Regions from separate parts of the Homo sapiens genome. Here region 2 is linked to region 1. The links come from fine-mapping of genetic effects on gene expression. A gene starts in region 1. The other region holds a variant in brackets. All regions are shown on one strand. Distances are between the middles of the regions.

The links. PIP is the estimated chance that this variant, and not a neighbour inherited with it, causes the effect.
Region 2: its variant is fine-mapped to the expression of CATSPERB in visceral fat (GTEx, PIP 0.98).

Annotation. Positions count from the first base shown.
Region 1 is chr14:91,728,286-91,736,607 of GRCh38, forward strand. It overlaps CATSPERB (catsper channel auxiliary subunit beta), which reads right to left and starts at 3,801. Exons shown (of 27, transcript NM_024764.4): 1 at 3,645-3,801; 2 at 1,116-1,194. The coding sequence starts at 1,194.
Region 2 is chr14:91,296,675-91,305,006 of GRCh38, forward strand. It overlaps CCDC88C (coiled-coil domain containing 88C), which reads right to left. Exons shown (of 30, transcript NM_001080414.4): 20 at 7,027-7,304; 21 at 3,253-3,396; 22 at 631-817. Among named protein-coding and RNA genes, the nearest start is that of GPR68, 56 kb to the left of the region's middle. RefSeq lists silencers at 6,529-6,588, 6,749-6,908. The variant G/C (reference allele first, on the strand shown) is at 4,322.

The DNA.
Region 1 (8,322 bases):
TGTATTTTTTATAGAGAAGAGGTTTTGCCATGTTGCCCAGGCTGGTCTCCAACTCCTGGGCTCAAGGTATCCTCCTGTCTCAGCCTCCCAAAGTGCTGGGATTACAGGTGTGAGCCACTGCACCTGGCCAAAGAGTTTTTTCTAACACTTGTCTCATTGCAACTAATTGATTTGTCCTCTGCACTTTGGTATCATTTTGTGAATTATGTACTCATATCAACAGGATCTTCTGGGCTTGGGTGGTAAAAACAGAGGCAGAGATACTGTGAGGAGAGACAGAGAAACAATTTCAAACTTTTCTAACTTTCCCTCCACGGACTGCTTTGCCTAGAAATTCTCAGATTATAGAGTTTGCTAGATTCTGTTATAATAATAAAACACAGAAAATTACTCTTTCGCAAGCTTCTAAAGGAAAGATGTGCCAGAGAAGTTATACTTTCAACAGCATGTGACTTCTTCAACAAGAATCATGATATAAAGGGAAACCACACAAGTGTAACCACCAATGGAATGCCTGCTCTGACTACCATAAAAATCCACTGTGGGACAAACGTACAGAAAAAAATGCCATTTATGAAATTCATTCATTGCCCTATTCACAGTTATACAACCACAACAGTCCCCCTTTTTCTGTGATCTCACTTTCCACAGTTTCAGTTACCTGTAGCCAACCATAGTCTAAAAACATAAAGTGGAAACTTTCAGAAATAAGCAATTTGTAAGTTTTACATTGTGCACTGTTCTGAGCAGTGTGATAAAATCTCATGCCATCGGCCAGGTGTGGTGGCTCATGCCTGTAATCTCAGCACTTTGGGAGGCTGAGGCAGGTGAATCACGAGGTCAGGAGTTCAAGACCAGCCTGGCCAAGATGGGTGAAACCCCATCTCTACTAAAAATACAAAAATTAGCCAGGCGTGGTGGTGGGCACCTGTAATCCCAGGTACTCGGGATATTAGAAGCCTCTAGACCAGAGTATAATTGACAATATTGGGAAACAATTGGAAGATAAGATAAAGAAGAAATACTAAAAGAAAAATTTTTTACTGTAAATAAGGAAGAGACACAAATAAGAACTCCTGAGAAGGAAATAGAGAGTAAGATGGTCTGAAACTTACCTTTATTATATACTATTCCTGATGAAAATTCAAATATGTTCAAAAGCAAAACTGAAACATATATAAGTGGCGATTCCATCTGTTGGAATAAATAAGAATTATTTTCACTCAATTTCTGAACATATTTTTGAATTCCTTTTGCTATAAACAACTACAAAGTAGTAAAGAAATAATCTCAATATTCTTAATATTTCACACTGTGTGACAAAAGCAGACAACACAACAGTTGCCTAAACTCTAAATTTACTCCCTACTTGGTATTAAAGGTAAATTTATAGGTATAATTATTACAAACTAGAAAAAGAGATGTGGCTCAGGTTTTCCTTCAGTAGGTAACCTTTAGAGAGGTGAGATCAGTTACACAGCTATGTAAAACAGAGCCTGAACTGATGAAGACTCTGAGGATGATACAGCTGTAACTTAATCTAATATTTTGACAACGTTGCTTTTGGGGAAGACAATTCACATGGTCCTGAGTTTCCCTGCACATTCTCGTTGAGTGTGCCAAGAATGCAAGGCCCTGGATGGTGTTCATCTCAGGCTTGTGTTTTGTAGCCACCAGCCTTGAGGGATGAGGTAAGGCACCCTGGACAACAGCAGGCTTGTTTCCATGGTGAATTGCTTAATCTCACTGTACCTCTCCTGTAATGCACTCCACTACGTGTATAAGCATCCATTATGGGCTCAATTTTCTACCCTCAAAATTCTGAAGTTGAAATCCTAACCACCCTTACCTCAGAAGGCAATCATGTTTGGAGATAGGATTTTTAAACAGGTGATGAAGTGAAAATGAAGTCATTAGGGTGGGCCCTCATCCAATAGGACTGGTGTCCTCAGAGAAGAGGAAATTTGGACATAGGCAGGGTGAAGTGAAGACACAGAGGGAAGACATTCAGAGGGAAGATGAAGGGAAGACACAGGAAGAAGACAGCCAGCCACCTATAAACTCAGGAGAGACGCATGAACAGTTCCTTCCTCATGGCCCTCAGAAGGAATTAACCCTACAGACACCTTGATCTCAGATTTCTAGCCTCCAGAACTGTGAGAAAATAAATTTCTGTTGTTTAAGCCACCCAGTGTATGGGCCTTTGTTATGGCAGCCCTAGAAAACTAACACAGCATCCATGATGAATTTCACCTCTAAGGAACTTGGGGGACAGGAGGTACTGGAGTGAGCAACCTGTGGACACTCTGGCTACTGCTTTTGCTATTAGTAATAAAGTCCTTCGTCTCTGACCTAGGAGTCTTGTGTCTTTTGCCAGCATCCAAGAAAACAGAAACATACTAATTTGCCAACTCTAAGTGGAATAAAATCTCAGAACTTTGTGCAGTTCCTGACAACTGCTGAGTAAATTAAATGTAACTGGTGTTTTTCCTTCATCAAAACTGACTTGCTTATTAAATACATTTAATTGACAATAGAAAGCTCAAACAGTTTGATTTTTTTGAATTCATTCTTATCACATTAACAGGGGAGAACTGAAGGTTTTTAGTGCATTTTTAAAAATCATCTGAGAAAACAACTTGTTTTCACAAGGTAAGAGGAAACAAATGGTAGATTAAAATTCTGTCGGCATGGTGCAATGCTCAAGTATATTTTTGGTGTAAGAACGAATTTAACATTAAGTGGAGACATTATCACAGTTAAACTCTGAAAATAGTCCCTTTACCAGAAAAATCTTATATCACTTTGCTAAACATTCAAATTAAATGATACAACACCATTATTAGAATCTTTATGCCTCTTCATGGGTCACCTGTGCAAACTCGAGAGAGTTAGTATGAAGCACGTGGTGGAAATTCTGGTTTTAATGTCAGCAAGCTTGTTCTGCAAGCTTTCTTATCTGCCATCCTGCAAGCTCAAGAATTTCTGCTACCTACTGGTTTCTTTAATTCTTTGGGGCATAGTTCCAGTCTCATTCTTCTTATTTTCCCTTCAATATTACAACTTTTCCTTATTTGATACTATCTTCTTTCAACTTTCAGCTCATAGTTAGAGTAAAAACATAGACTTTAGCCTAAGACGAAGTCTGTCCATCGAAATATTTGATTTTTAGCAAGCTATTTAACTTCTTGGAGTTCATATTCTATTCAGTAAAATGGGGATAACAGGCACTTCACAGTGTTGTTGTGAGAATTAAATGAAAAATACCTTAAAACATCTAACATATTCTATACAGAATAAGCACTTGACAAGTATTACTTCTGAATTCCATATCTCCATACACTGCAGCAACTTCTTTTTCCTCATCACACTCCCCTACTGACCTACTTAGCAGTTAAATTACCCCCAGTTATCATTCCTTTGTAATTATTATAAGTTTTACATAATTACTGGATACAAGTCATGTATCTGGGCATTTTCTCTTCTCTGGCACTAAATAAACATTGGGAATTGCCCCATTGAAGGAAGCTATTTCCTCCCCCAGTTGGTTCATTTATAGTTACTCCATTATTATGGAATAGTGATCACATTATAAATTCATACTCCAGCAGGGTCCTTATTTTAATATTTTTTACTGTAATTACCTCTTTAGGAGATGCGCAACTAGTTGTGTTCTTCTTTTTTATATTTTTTCTCAGTTTTCTTCCATATAGACTGAGAAGAAAGACCCAAAGTCAGGAGCCAAGTTTTCCCTGTTGACTGGCTTAGCACTCTAGTCACCTTTGGTAACAGCCAATCAGCAGCTACCAAGTACAGAAGCATGCTTAGAAAATCTAAAGGACAGGCAGTTGGAATTTCCAACTAACTGCCTCTTTCAGAGCACCACAGGCCATTTTCTTTAAAAACCGATGAGAGGTGGAGGTTCTCCAAACCTTCCATCTTTAATATAGCATTTATCTAGGAAGGATCAGAAACCTACATATGATTATCTATAAAACACTTCAATGATCATACGATCATTGAATGCCTGGGGAAAAACATAAATGCTAAAAGCTCATGCTAACTGCATATAATAAGGTTTAAAAGGAGGCAATCTCTCAAAGGGGAGGAGCTTCATAACTGGGTCTTTAAGGAAGACTGGGACTTAAAAAAAATAGAGAAGGCCTTATTGACAGGTAAACAAGACAAGCAAATACACAAAGCACAAAGTTAGAAATGAGCTGTGGACGCATGGAAACAGTGAGACCAAATGGCATGCCAGTTTGTCCTCCGTATTCATGTTGTGTGACTGTCCTTGATGTGGTTGTATGTGCTCACTAAGGCTGCCTTTGACTGAGTACCGAGTGAGCTGAGCTTGAACCTTTCTGTCTTACCCAGCGCCCTGACTAGTCATGAATGGTCACAGAGGCTGACACATACTTTTTGATAATCATGATAATAAAACGTGTTTTATACTCAGGTTGTCCTTCAGAAGTCCCTTCACATGGCCATGTAAAACCTGCTTTACCCTCATATCCTGAAATATGTCTGGTATCTGGGTTTAATCTATTCCTGGAAGAGCCCGCATCAGAAATATATTTCTCTCACCCTTTCTGGTGACCTTGACCTAAAGAAGAACCTGAAACAGTGTGCAAAACACAACAAAATATATTTCCTTATAAAGACTCAGTTCCCAGAAACTTGGAGCTCTCTTTTTTTGTTGCCTGTTTCCCACTAGGGAAGGCAATAAAGCTTTTATGGAAGAAGATGTAGCTTTCAGTTACCATAGCAACACTGCTACACATTAAAAAAAAGTCTGAGCAATACTGAAGGTACACATTGAGAGCTCTAAAAAGAATGATGAAGCAGGTGACATTTGCCTTCTTTCTCCCCAGCAACCTCTTAGTTTTCTTTTCCTCATTTGCCCCCACATTTTGTTTCCTAACTTACGAAAGAGTAAAGGATCTGTTTTCAATCACAGTCACTGATGAATTACACTTTGATGTGAGTACCAAGACTACTCCCACAGTAGGTGATTCATCTGTAACAGTGGAATGAAAGGGGTTCTTCTGCCTGAAAAACAAATTATGCACTGGGCTTCCGTCTAGTCAGGAGGATAGGGGGCAAGGCAATGGGCTGATTGAAAGAAGGATGACTTTGACTTTTTTTGTAATTTTTTGCTGGCTATAACAGGGCTTATTATGTGTGAAAAATGAAAACAAGTATAGAGAAATCAATTACGCATAAATCAACAACCAGATATAACCACTGTGGACATTTTGACATTTCTCGAGTCTGTTTCTTCTGCATTTATATGTCCTTCTTTCAGTCATTGTTAGTCTGACCATTTTCTCGTGTAACTCAAGTGTTTTATTTAAGTCTTCGCAGTTGTAGATCTAAAAATAACGGTACCTAATTTACTTAAACATAAAATATTTTTCTATTTCCAGTGTTTTCCTTTTTGAGAAATGTGGTAATGAATAATCCTGAACAAAATTATTTTCCTACATTTAAAAATATTTCCTTAGGATATGAACATGTTTAAGACTCTTGAATGTATGTTGACAAATTGCTTTCCAGAAACCCAGCAGTGAAAATTAGATATAATCTGAAATAATTTGATACATTAAAAAATCTTGTTTTACTTTTTTCAATATTGGTTCAACTGAACACTTATAAATATGCTTGTTTGACATTTTTTTCTTCTATAAATTATCTGGGCATGTTGTTAAACATTTTCTACGGGAAATTTAGTGTTTTGCTTGTGAAATGGTAAAATAACCCCTTGCAATATTTAATGTAAATATTTAACTCAATTTGTCATGTAACAATTTTATTTATAAATTTTTCTTGTCTTTGTTTTATTTATTAATTTATTTATTTGAGATGGAGTCTCATCTCTGTCATCCAGGCTGGAGTGCAGTGGTGCAATCTTGGCTCACTGCAACCTCCGCCTCCCGGGTGCAAGTGATTCTCATGCCTCAGCCTTCTGAGTAGCTGGGATTACAGGCGTGCGCCACCACGCCCAGATAATTTTTGTATTTTCAGTAGAGACAGGGTTTCACCATGTTGGCCAGGCTGGTCTTGAACTCCTGACCTCAGGTGATCTGCCTGCCTCGGCCTCCCAAAATGCTGAGATTATAGGCATGAGCCACCGTGCCCAGCCTTCTTATCCTTTTTATGTGAGAAATTTTAAAGACTCAAAAAGTTCAAAGACTAAGATAACGAGGATGTTTCAGTCATCCAAGATTAAAATCACCCTCAGTTTTTAATAACTTTTTATTATGGGATGTGCCAAACATTGGGGGAAAAGTAGAGAGAACTATACATTATATATATGTAAATAATATATATATTATAACATATATATTCTATTTTGTGTAATTGCCTACCTTCGGTCTTGTTTCATCTATACTCTCTTTCACTCACTTCCTCCTCTAGTATTATTTTGTTGTTTTTTGGTGGTGTTTGTTGTTTTTTCTGAGGCACAGTCTCGCTCTGTCACCCAGGCTGGAATGCAGTGGTCTGATCCCGGCTCACTGAAACCATCCACCTCCGGAATTCAAGAGATTCTCTTGCCTCAGCCTCCCAAGTAACTGGGATTACAGGTGTGCGCCACCACGCCCAGCTAATTTTTAGTAAAGATGGAGTTTCTCCATGTTGGTCAGGCTGGTCTCAAACTCCTGGCCTCAAGTGATCCATCTGCCTTGGCCTATCAAAGTGCTGGGATTATAGGCATGAGCCACCGCATCCAGCCTGCAGGATTACTTTGAAGATATCCTAGACAACTGTATATATTTCAGTATGTATTTCTAAGAGAAAATGACTTTTTTTAAAGAAAAGAAAACCACAATACAATTTAAAACCTAAAAATAATAGTAAGTCCCAGATATCTACCCAGTGACTGTTTATATTTCCTCAGTTACCTCATTCACAAAATTTTTTATAGTTGTATGAATCAGGATTCAATAAGGTTCAAACTTTGCCACTGGTTGATGTATCTCTGAGGTGTCAAAATCTACAAGTAATTTTCCTTTCACCTCTCCCTTCACCCCATCATTTTTTTTTCTCTCGCTTTTTCCTTGAAATTCATTAAAGAAGAAGTTAGTTGTAATGTGTTTCCCATGGTTTGGATTTTGCTGAGTGCATCATTATGGTATCTTTTTACATCATAAGTTTATCATATTGTTCGGTAAATTGTTAAGTAGATTTAGAGGCTTGATCAGATGCAGGTTTAATTTTTTTGTCAAGAACACTTCATAGGTGGTGTTGGGTACTTCCATCAGGAGGCACCTAAGGTGTGGTTAGCTCTTTTTCTGATGTAGCATCTATCATTTATTGCCTAAATCTGTTAAATTCATTAGAGGCTGCAGAGTGGTGATGTATTATCATTTCTTCTTTGCTTATTAGCTGGAATACTTTTATAAAGATAACTTTTCATGCATCAACTATTTGTTTACTCAGAGGTACAATTCCTAAGAGAAGACAAATGCTTCATTCTTTTCCTTCGTTTACCATTTTGAAAATAATGAATTGATTCCCTAGCATCCTTATAGAGGCAACCAATAAAGTTCATTTTTGCTATCATTATGAACTCACAGGTTTCCATTTAAATATATTTAATGTATTTCTATCATTATGGTTATTATCCTTATTGATGCTCAAGGTGTCTAATTTTAACAGGTATGGTCCCTCCAAAGTTCGCTTCTGTCTTTTTGACATGACTCTAGTCATTTTTGACAGTTTCCTTCCTTCCTTATAAGACAAGATACTCTAGGCTCACCTTCTACATTTCCTGCCCCAGACATGGACTCAGTCATTTCTCTATATAATTCTGATTCCTTTTACTGGAAAATCGTATTCAGAAGCCATAGTTTTGGGAATTTGGCCAGTCTTTTTTTTTTTTTTTCTTTAATAAATATAGAAAACCTGGCCAGGTACAGTGGCTCACACTTGTAATCCCAGCACTTTGGGAGGCCAAGGCAGGCAGGTAACTTGAGGCCAGGAGTTCAAGACCACCCTGGCCAACATGGTGAAACTCTTCTCTACTAAAAATACAAAAATTAGCTGGACGTGGTGGCACACGCCTGTAGTCCCAGCTACTCAGTAGGCTAAGGGCAGGAGAATCACTTGAACCCAGTAGGCGGAGGTTGCAGTGAGCCAAGATCATGTCACTGTACTCCAGTTTAGGCAACAGAACAAGATCTGTCTCAAAAAGAAAGAAAGAAAGAAAAAGAAAGGAAGGAAGGAAGGAAGGAAGGAAGGCAGGCAGGCAGGCTTATGTAGGCAGGCTTATGTAAGATAGATGGTGGCCACCTAAAACTTAATTTCTCCACATATTCT
Region 2 (8,332 bases), 430 kb before region 1:
GGCGTCTGAGACTGTTTCTCAAAGAGCAAACCTTGTCCTGAGGTGCCAGCTGTCCCTGGGGCTGTCTAGGAGGTGGGGTGAGACCTACGTGCTCCTCCCTGCCAGACCTGCCTCACCAGCCTTCCATGTGCTGAGGTCTGTTAAGATCTCATCTGGAGAGGGTCTTGCTGCGTGAGGCCATTTCCAACCTTGTGTACTAGAAGGGACGGCTCTGGAAGCCAGGGACTCCCGAGTGAGCTCCGTCCCAGAGGCAGCCACACCCCAAAATGGAGCAAATTCACACCACTTCTCTAGGACAGTGTGACTACTGAACTGAAGAGATGTAGGAAGACAGTATAGACACAGCTAAGAGGATCGAGATAAAACATCATCAACCGTCCCCACTGTGCCTCTCCCGACCCTGCAAAAGGTGACGGTCAGACAGGGGTGTTTTCGTATACAGTCCCACCAGAAGCCACAATGACCCCCGTCAGCACCTCTGGCTTCACCGCAGCCTCTGTGCCACCTCCACACATTTCTGTCTTTGAGCACAAATGCCCATGAGGACCCCTCACAGCTTGGCTGAGCCCTGGGCTGTCCCCTTGGGGGACTCATCCCTGTCTCCCGAGGCTCCCCTGGCGCTGGCCTCACCTCACAGTGGTTGTCCAGCTTGGTCAGCGAGATGTCCATGGTCTGGTGCTGCTCCTTCAGCTCGTCGAAGCGGGCCTGCCAGCGGTTGAGCTCCAGCTGCGCGTTGTTCAGTGAGGTTTTCAGCTCCTTGGTGTGGGCGTGCAGCTCCTCGTACTCCCCCTTCAGCTGGTGGTGCAGGAAATTGACCCTGGAGGAGGAAGAGTCACAGGGCAAAGGAGCTGAAGAGCCTGACAAACAGGTAACGGCCCAGAGACCTGGGCTATGTCCCAGCTCTGACAGTGGCAGGCTGTGCAACCTTAGACAAAATCACAACCTCTCTGGGCTTTTTTTTTTTTCCATGCATAAAATAAGGAGCTTGGACAAAACTGTCCATCAGCAAACTGTGTTCTTTGGGGATGCATGAGGGTACCCCTGATGCCACTACACTGAGCCTCCAGGGAGACTGAGCAGGCAAGCTCAGACACCTGTTTCAACACAGCATCACTGCTACCATCACTTCCATGCTACAGCTTTGGTATCTGTGTACACTTGAAAAACAAGATTCTGCTGTTTAAAAAAATGTTTAAACCACTAAACTAGACCATTTTTGCTCTAAAATTCTGTCTCTGCCCAGCTCTTCTTCCCAATTCCAAGCCCCTTTCTAATTTCAGCTCGTGAGATAAAGTGTGAGATGGTGTGTATTATGTAAATCTATTAAAATTGCTATCATCAAAACAACTATTATCCAACTGGGAGTTCTCTGGAGATTTATATCAGAAAGCTCATTACCAGGGTCTTGTGGACTTGATTTGGACATAGACGTGTCTTATTTGGCCTGTACAATTTTACTTTTTAAAAACAAATTAGTTGACCAGGTATGGTGGCTCACGCCTGTAATCCCAGCACTCTGGGAGGCTGAGGAGGGAGGATCGCTTGAGGCCAGTTCCACACCAGCCTAGGCGACATAGTGAGACCCCCATCTCTGCAAAAAGTAGAAAAAAGTTGCCGGGAACCCGGGAGGCGGAGCTTGCAGTGAGCCGAGATCGCGCCACTGCACTCCAGCCTGGTGACAGAGCAAGACTCCGTCTCAAAAAAAAAAATGTTGCCGGGCATAGTGACGCACACCTGTGCTCCCAGCTACTTGGGAGGCTGGGCTGGGAGGATCACTTAGGCCCAGGGAGTTAAGGCTGCAGTGAGCCATGATCATGTCACTCCAGCCTCAGTGGCTGAGCAAGATCCCATCTCAAAAAAAAAAAAAAAATTTAGTGGCCAGCATTAAAAAATTTGAAGTTTACATCAATACCCAAACATTCAGGTTCTCTTAAAATATAAAAAACAAAAGGCTGCCCAGGCAGTCCCGGGCCCGCCTCCAGCTGGCGGCCTTTGCTGGAGCCGATTCTCTGCTGCCCTTTTAGACGATGTGCATTCTCCGTTCAACAGTCTGTGGTCTATGTCTGGTACTGTTTCACCCATGTGCTTTATTTGCCTGGGGAGCCAAGGTAACTGAGTTTCTAACCCCCCGTATACACGAACTCGAGTATGTGGGAGGAGGAAGAATTTCGTATGGTCAAGCCTTTGCAATGAGACAGGACCTGGATTCCATCCTGACTCTGCTATTCACTAGAAACACTGACTCGGAACAAGTTATTTAATCTCTCCCAACCTGTTTCCTCATCTGTTAAAAAGAAAGCCAAAAAGATAACAATAGTATAGTCGATTCTCATTATGTGTGGTAGTCACATTCTATAAAGTTGCTGTAAACACTGAATTAGTGAACAGCGAAGCATCCAGCCTAGGGAAAAAATATAGAATTAGGTTCCCGGGAGCCTCTGGCCACATTTTTGTTACTGATCAATACATAACCTTGTTTTATGTGGGTTTCTGTTTGAAGATACCTTATGCAGCAATTCACAGCCAACAGCACTATAACTCATGCCTGAACAAAGCTTATCTAAGACTTTTTCTCTGTAAGGCACATCACAGCCACCTTCTGCTTAGGGACATGAAACAGCACTTCAGTACTACAATTGTGGGTCATTTTAAACAGCAAAGTCACTTCCCGAAAGCACAAAATATGAAAACCGTGGCATTGAAGAGATTCTGAAAGGGACATTTGTTTGCAGTAGGAGCTGAAACAAGAAGGCAGCGTGCTGTCGTGTGTGCCCTCAGCTGGGAAGGTGCGCATCCAGTGACTCCCGCATTTCACCACTCTGTGCGTGTCCACGAAAGCCCCACGGAGACTGGTCTTGGGGCGGCAAATAAAACTTTAGCAAGTAGGTGGATTCACAAATAGGGGTTCTGTGAATCATGAGCAATCTGCAGTTTCTCCTTCATGAGCAAGAGGCAGGCTTATGCCAGATGATGAATTCACCTGTGCCTGATGCAATCCTCACCACAAGGGTGGGAGGGGAGAACCACTTAACTCAGACGACGCGCCATCCCCAGGTGTCACCTGAGTGCTCTCATGCCAGCAACCAGCTAGAGTTGCCCTTTAGCTTATTTTACCCACCCAGCTGTTCACACAGCAAGGGATAAAAATCCACGATCGCCAGGGGACTTGAACTTCTCAGTGGTTGCTATGCAAGGAGAGTCTGAACAGAATCTGGGGTGCTGCTATGTGCAGGGCCGGGCGCCGGCGCTCACCTGTCCAGCTCGCCCCGCAGCCTCTGGTTCTCGCCCATGGCGAGGGCGTTTGTCCTCTGCTCCTGCTGCAGCGCCTCTCGCTCAGTGGTCAAGACCTTCTCCCGCTCCTCCAGCTCCGCCTTGCGCTTCAGCATGTCACCGTGCCTGTTGGAGGGAAGCACCTGCCGTGAGTCTGGCCAGGGCCTTCTTTTCCGACAGGTAACTCACATCCCAGAGGATCTGCGTGCCTCCCGTGAGAAAATGGGATTCCTCTGGAGAGTCTCTCTGCAGAAGTGAGGGGCATGGGGCAGGGAACAGGCGGGGAGCGCAGCCACTGGGAGCCATGTCAAGGCCAGCGCCAAGCCCTGGAGCCCAGAATCCTCTTCCTCCAGCCCGTTCTGTCTCCATAGTCCCTCCATGCCCTGATAAAGCAGTCGCTCTTCCTTTAGCCACCTGACAATGTGATGACTACATTTTCTGAGCTCCATGCCCTTCTCTTTTAGGGAATTATAAATACGCTACTAGGTAGTTCACTAAGCACAAATAAATCTAAGAGAAACCACAAAACAAACAGTGGAATTCCGCTGCACATCACAGCTAATCTCACCCTCCAAGGGCTGGAGAAGCCTCTCCCTCTCCCCTTAGGAGCCTGCATCCACTTGTTCTTAGTCTGGCCTTCCCCAGGGGACAGAGGCTCACCCAGGAGCTGCCAGGGACTAGTTGTCACATACACACAGCAGCTCTCCTCAGGCGCCTTAGCCACAGCCCTCACCGTCCCCACAACTTTCTCCTTACCCTCAAGGCTCTAATCTTCTCCAGGCTCTAATCTATCTTTGTCGGCTGCACTGGCCATCTCTTGGGGGGCAGAGTACAATGATGTAGCCCCATAGGTCCCGGCCCCTCCCCTTCCCAGCCTGTTTCAACCTCGTGTGTTCACGGGTGACCCAGGATCTCCTAGCAGACTGGAAGTGTTGAGAAGTCTGAGGCACAGTCTCCTGATCTTTCCCATTCAGGCAAATTCTTCTCTACAGACCCCTTCCTGAGTGTCTCACACCCAAAGACAATCTGACAGAGGCTAGCCAGTGTCCCT[G/C]GGGTTTCTGGCCTTTCTCTTCAGGACTCCACTGCACCTTGTTGGAAAAGCACATTAATCAAGCATGTCTCTAACCATTAGCAATGACCCAACTGTAGGGCAGAAACTTTATAACTCTTACTCACCACTGAATCCCCGTGTGAGGAATGACACGTAGTGAATGCTTGTTAGAGCAATGAGTGGGTGAGCGTCTCCGATTTTAGTGTCAAATGAGAAGAAGAGAAAACCATCATCCTTGTGTGCCATGTACCTACACTCCTAAACCTGTAGCCCTGCTGCAGACACAGCAAGGGAGCCTCCAGTCATCTGTCCAACCAGCAAAAAGCACTGAGTAACTACCACATGCTGTACTGAGCAAGGACCTGCAGGGAAAACAACAGTCCAGACTCCACCTGCCAAAACCTTTGCTCTCTGAATGCACATTAAGAATACAATAAGGGGTCAGCACGGTGGCTCACGCCTATAATCCCAGCATTTTGGGAGGCCGAGACAGGTGGATCACTTGAGGTAGGGAGTTCAAAACCAGCCTGGTCAACATGGTGAAACCCCATCTCTACTAAAAAATACAAAAATTAGCCGGGTGTGGTGGTGCATGCCTGTAGTCCCAGCTACTTGGGAGGCTGAAGTAGGAGGATTGCTTGAAGCCGGGAGGTGGAGGCTGCTGTGAGCCAAGATCGCTCCACTGCACTCCAGCCTGGGCGACAGAGTGAGACTCCATCTCAAAATAAAGAAAGAAGGAAAGAATACAATACAGCATTATTTAATACGACATAACATAACACTAAGAATAAGGCACGCAAGTGCCTGGTGAGTGCTGGGCATCATGCTAGTATCAGACTTACACGAATGCTTCATTAGTTTGTCAGCTGGGTGCAACTCCTACCATGTCTAGACACAGCACCACGTACACAATAAATGTCACACAAATAACAAGATGGGTGGGGGAAGACGAGGGAGAGATCAAAGTGAAAAGAGGCAGAAGATGCTACTTTAGGCCGGAAGGAGTAGTCTTATAGTTTCAGATGCCTCAACAGCCCCTGAAGGATGGAGATCTGGATGGATAAAAGGGGTGAAGAACTCCAGATAGAGACAAAAAGGAAGCACTTGGCAAGTGAATAAATGAATGTCATCACCACCCATGAACCCACAAGCATCATCAGCGCCCGCACAAGGCTTTTGTGATTCAATGACATTTGTGGCTCCTGACCGTGGAGATGTCCTCCCCACTCCCACCTTGAAGAACCAACGATCACTTAGCCATGTTGTTGAGGCGGCTCCAAAGGATATACCATCAGCAGGGCCATTTCCCAGGCAAAGGAAGTAGATCTTGCTCCCTCTGTTGTACTCCAAGTACCTGAGAGCCTCTCTTTAGCCATGTCTCTCTCATGCATCAGATTCAGGTGCACATCACACCTGCCCCTCAGACTCTGGAGAGCAGCATCCTACCTCTCCTAGCCCTCCCTGGATCCTGCCATGCCCTGCGCAGGTGCCTGGTACCATCACTGATCAGCAGGAGACAGAATCCCAGCCCAGATTGGCTGACTTAATGAATACAAAACCCAAGACCATGAACTGTCAAGAGTGCAAAGTTAAGATGTGTGCATTTCAATGTAAGTTTTACCTGTAAAAAATGGGGTGAGGGTGTGGAGAGTGGGAGGTGCACATGAAATGAGAACAGCAGGACATAAATGACTGTCGAGAGTGCATGATGCATACACAAGAGTTTCACTATATGATTCTGCTTCCTTTCTATATGTTCGGAAGTTTCCATAATTAAAGGTTAAAAATGAAAAAAAGCAAGCGAGACCTTGATATGAAAGAGAAGAGCTGGGAGGCCAGAGAAGGCATACCCCTACAAACGGAGCCGTGGAGAATTCCCTCCTTATTTCTGTTTTGGGGAGAAAAGAGACAGAAGAGAACCCTTAGGGATCAGGGCCCCAAAGGCCCACTGGAAATAGTAGAGGCATCCCCTTCTCCACACAGGAGCCCCTCTTACTACTGTCTTCAGTTGCACAAATTCCAAATTGCTAAAGGTAACGTTTATTTCCTTCCTTTTGGGAAAGCTCAGGTGCCCCAACAATGGGAAGCAGCTGGCCAAGAGATTTCCTGCAGGGGAGGTCCAGGGAAGTCCCAGTCCTCCGCGCAGCCTGACAGACTCCCCAGGCCTGGCCTCAGGCCCCGCTGCAGGCCTACCCAGGGGCCCCACCTCCACCCTCCTTCACCTCCCCTCCCCACACACCCTGCCTCTCCCCCGGGCCCTGCCCACTTCCCCAAAGCCCTGCCTCTCCTGAGACCCTCTCCTGAGACCCCACCTCTGCTCCAGGCTCCACCTCTCCTCCAGGCTCCACCCTTCTCACGAGGCCCCCGCCTCTCGTCCAGGCTCCACCCATCTCCCCCAGTCCCTGCCTTTCCCACAGGTCCTACCCACCTCCCCCAGACCCCGCCTCTCTCCAGGCTCCACCTCTCTCCCCAGGCTCTGCCTCTCCTCCAGGCTCCACCCCTCTCCCCAGGCCCCACCCCTCCTCCAGGCTCTATCACTCTCCCCCAGGTCCCACCCATCTCCTCCAGGCTCCACCCATCTTCCCCAGGCCCTGCCTCTCCCCTAGGTCCCACCCATCTACCCCAGGCCCCACCTTTCCCCCTGGGCCCAGCCTCTCCTCTGGACTCTACCCCTCCCCAGATCCCCTTCCTTCCCCAGGCCCTACCTCTCCCCGAGCTCCTTGTGCTCCAGCTCCAGATTCCGATGCAGTGTCTTTAGGCAGCTGTGCTGGCGGATGAGGGCCTCGTACTCGGCCGATTGCCGCTCGTGCAGCGTGCCCAGGTGCTCGTGGTCCTGCAGCAGGGCCTCGTAGGCCGCTGTAAGTTGCTCCTGCTGCCTCTGCAGGCTTTCGTTCTCCGTCTCCTTGGCCGTGTGGTGGTTCTGCAGCAGCGTGTACTGCGCGGTGAGCGCTGCGCTCTGGGAACTCAGCGTGGAGTTCTCCACCTGCCGAGAGGGAGAAGCGCGGCGTGGCGCAGGCCCCACAGTCAGCGAGGAGGGCTGGGGAGCAGGTCAAGTGCTCGAGCAGACACGAAAATAGCCGGGACCCTCAGGGCAGAAGACCCAGAGGGTACCCAGGATGGCTGTTCCAGAACTTAAGCAACTGCTGTGGGAAGGGGACTAAACCGCATAGACGGGCACTCAGAGGGTACTTCAGTCCTGAGCCACTCGCCACAAATGTGAGCTGCTGGGGCAGATGATGTCCTTTCCCTGGATAACTCCCTTGTGTGCTGTGCCCTCTCTGACTATTTTTTAAAAACCTCTTTTCAGCTGACTGTGGTGGCTCAGGCTTGTAATCCCAGGACTTCAGGAAGCAGAAGCAGGAGGGTCACTTGAACCAAAGAATTCAAGACCAGCCTGAGCAACATAGTGAGACCCCATCTCTACAAAAAAAAAGTATTTTTAACTTAGCTGGGCATGGTGTTGTATGCCTATAGTCCCAGCTACTTGGGAGGCTGAGGCAGGAGGACTGCTTGAGCCCAGGAGTTGGAGGTTATAGTGAGCTATGATTGCAGCACTGCACTCCAGCCTGGGCGACAGAGTGAAACCCTGTCTCTTACAATGAAAACAGAACCTATTTTCTAGAACAAGTATACAGAATATCTGTAAATAAGGATATAGAATACCTGAACAATACTATCAACCTACTTAACATAATTGATATTTGTATACCTCTCCATCCAACAACATCCAAAATCATCAGAAAACTGAAGAGGAGGGAATACTTCCCAAATCATTTTATGAAGCCAGAATTACCCTGATATTAAAACCAGATTAAGACTGTAAGAAAAATTCAAAATAGTAAGTCAATATACTATTTTCTTGTTACCAGAACAAATTCCGATTTCTTTGCCAAACAGTTTCCTGTTGATTGTCCTTGCCCCATAAGATACATATTTTCAAACTTTTCTCAGAAATTGCAATAAAAAGCCAGGTGTGGTGGCTCACGCCTGTAATCCCAGCACTTTGGGAGG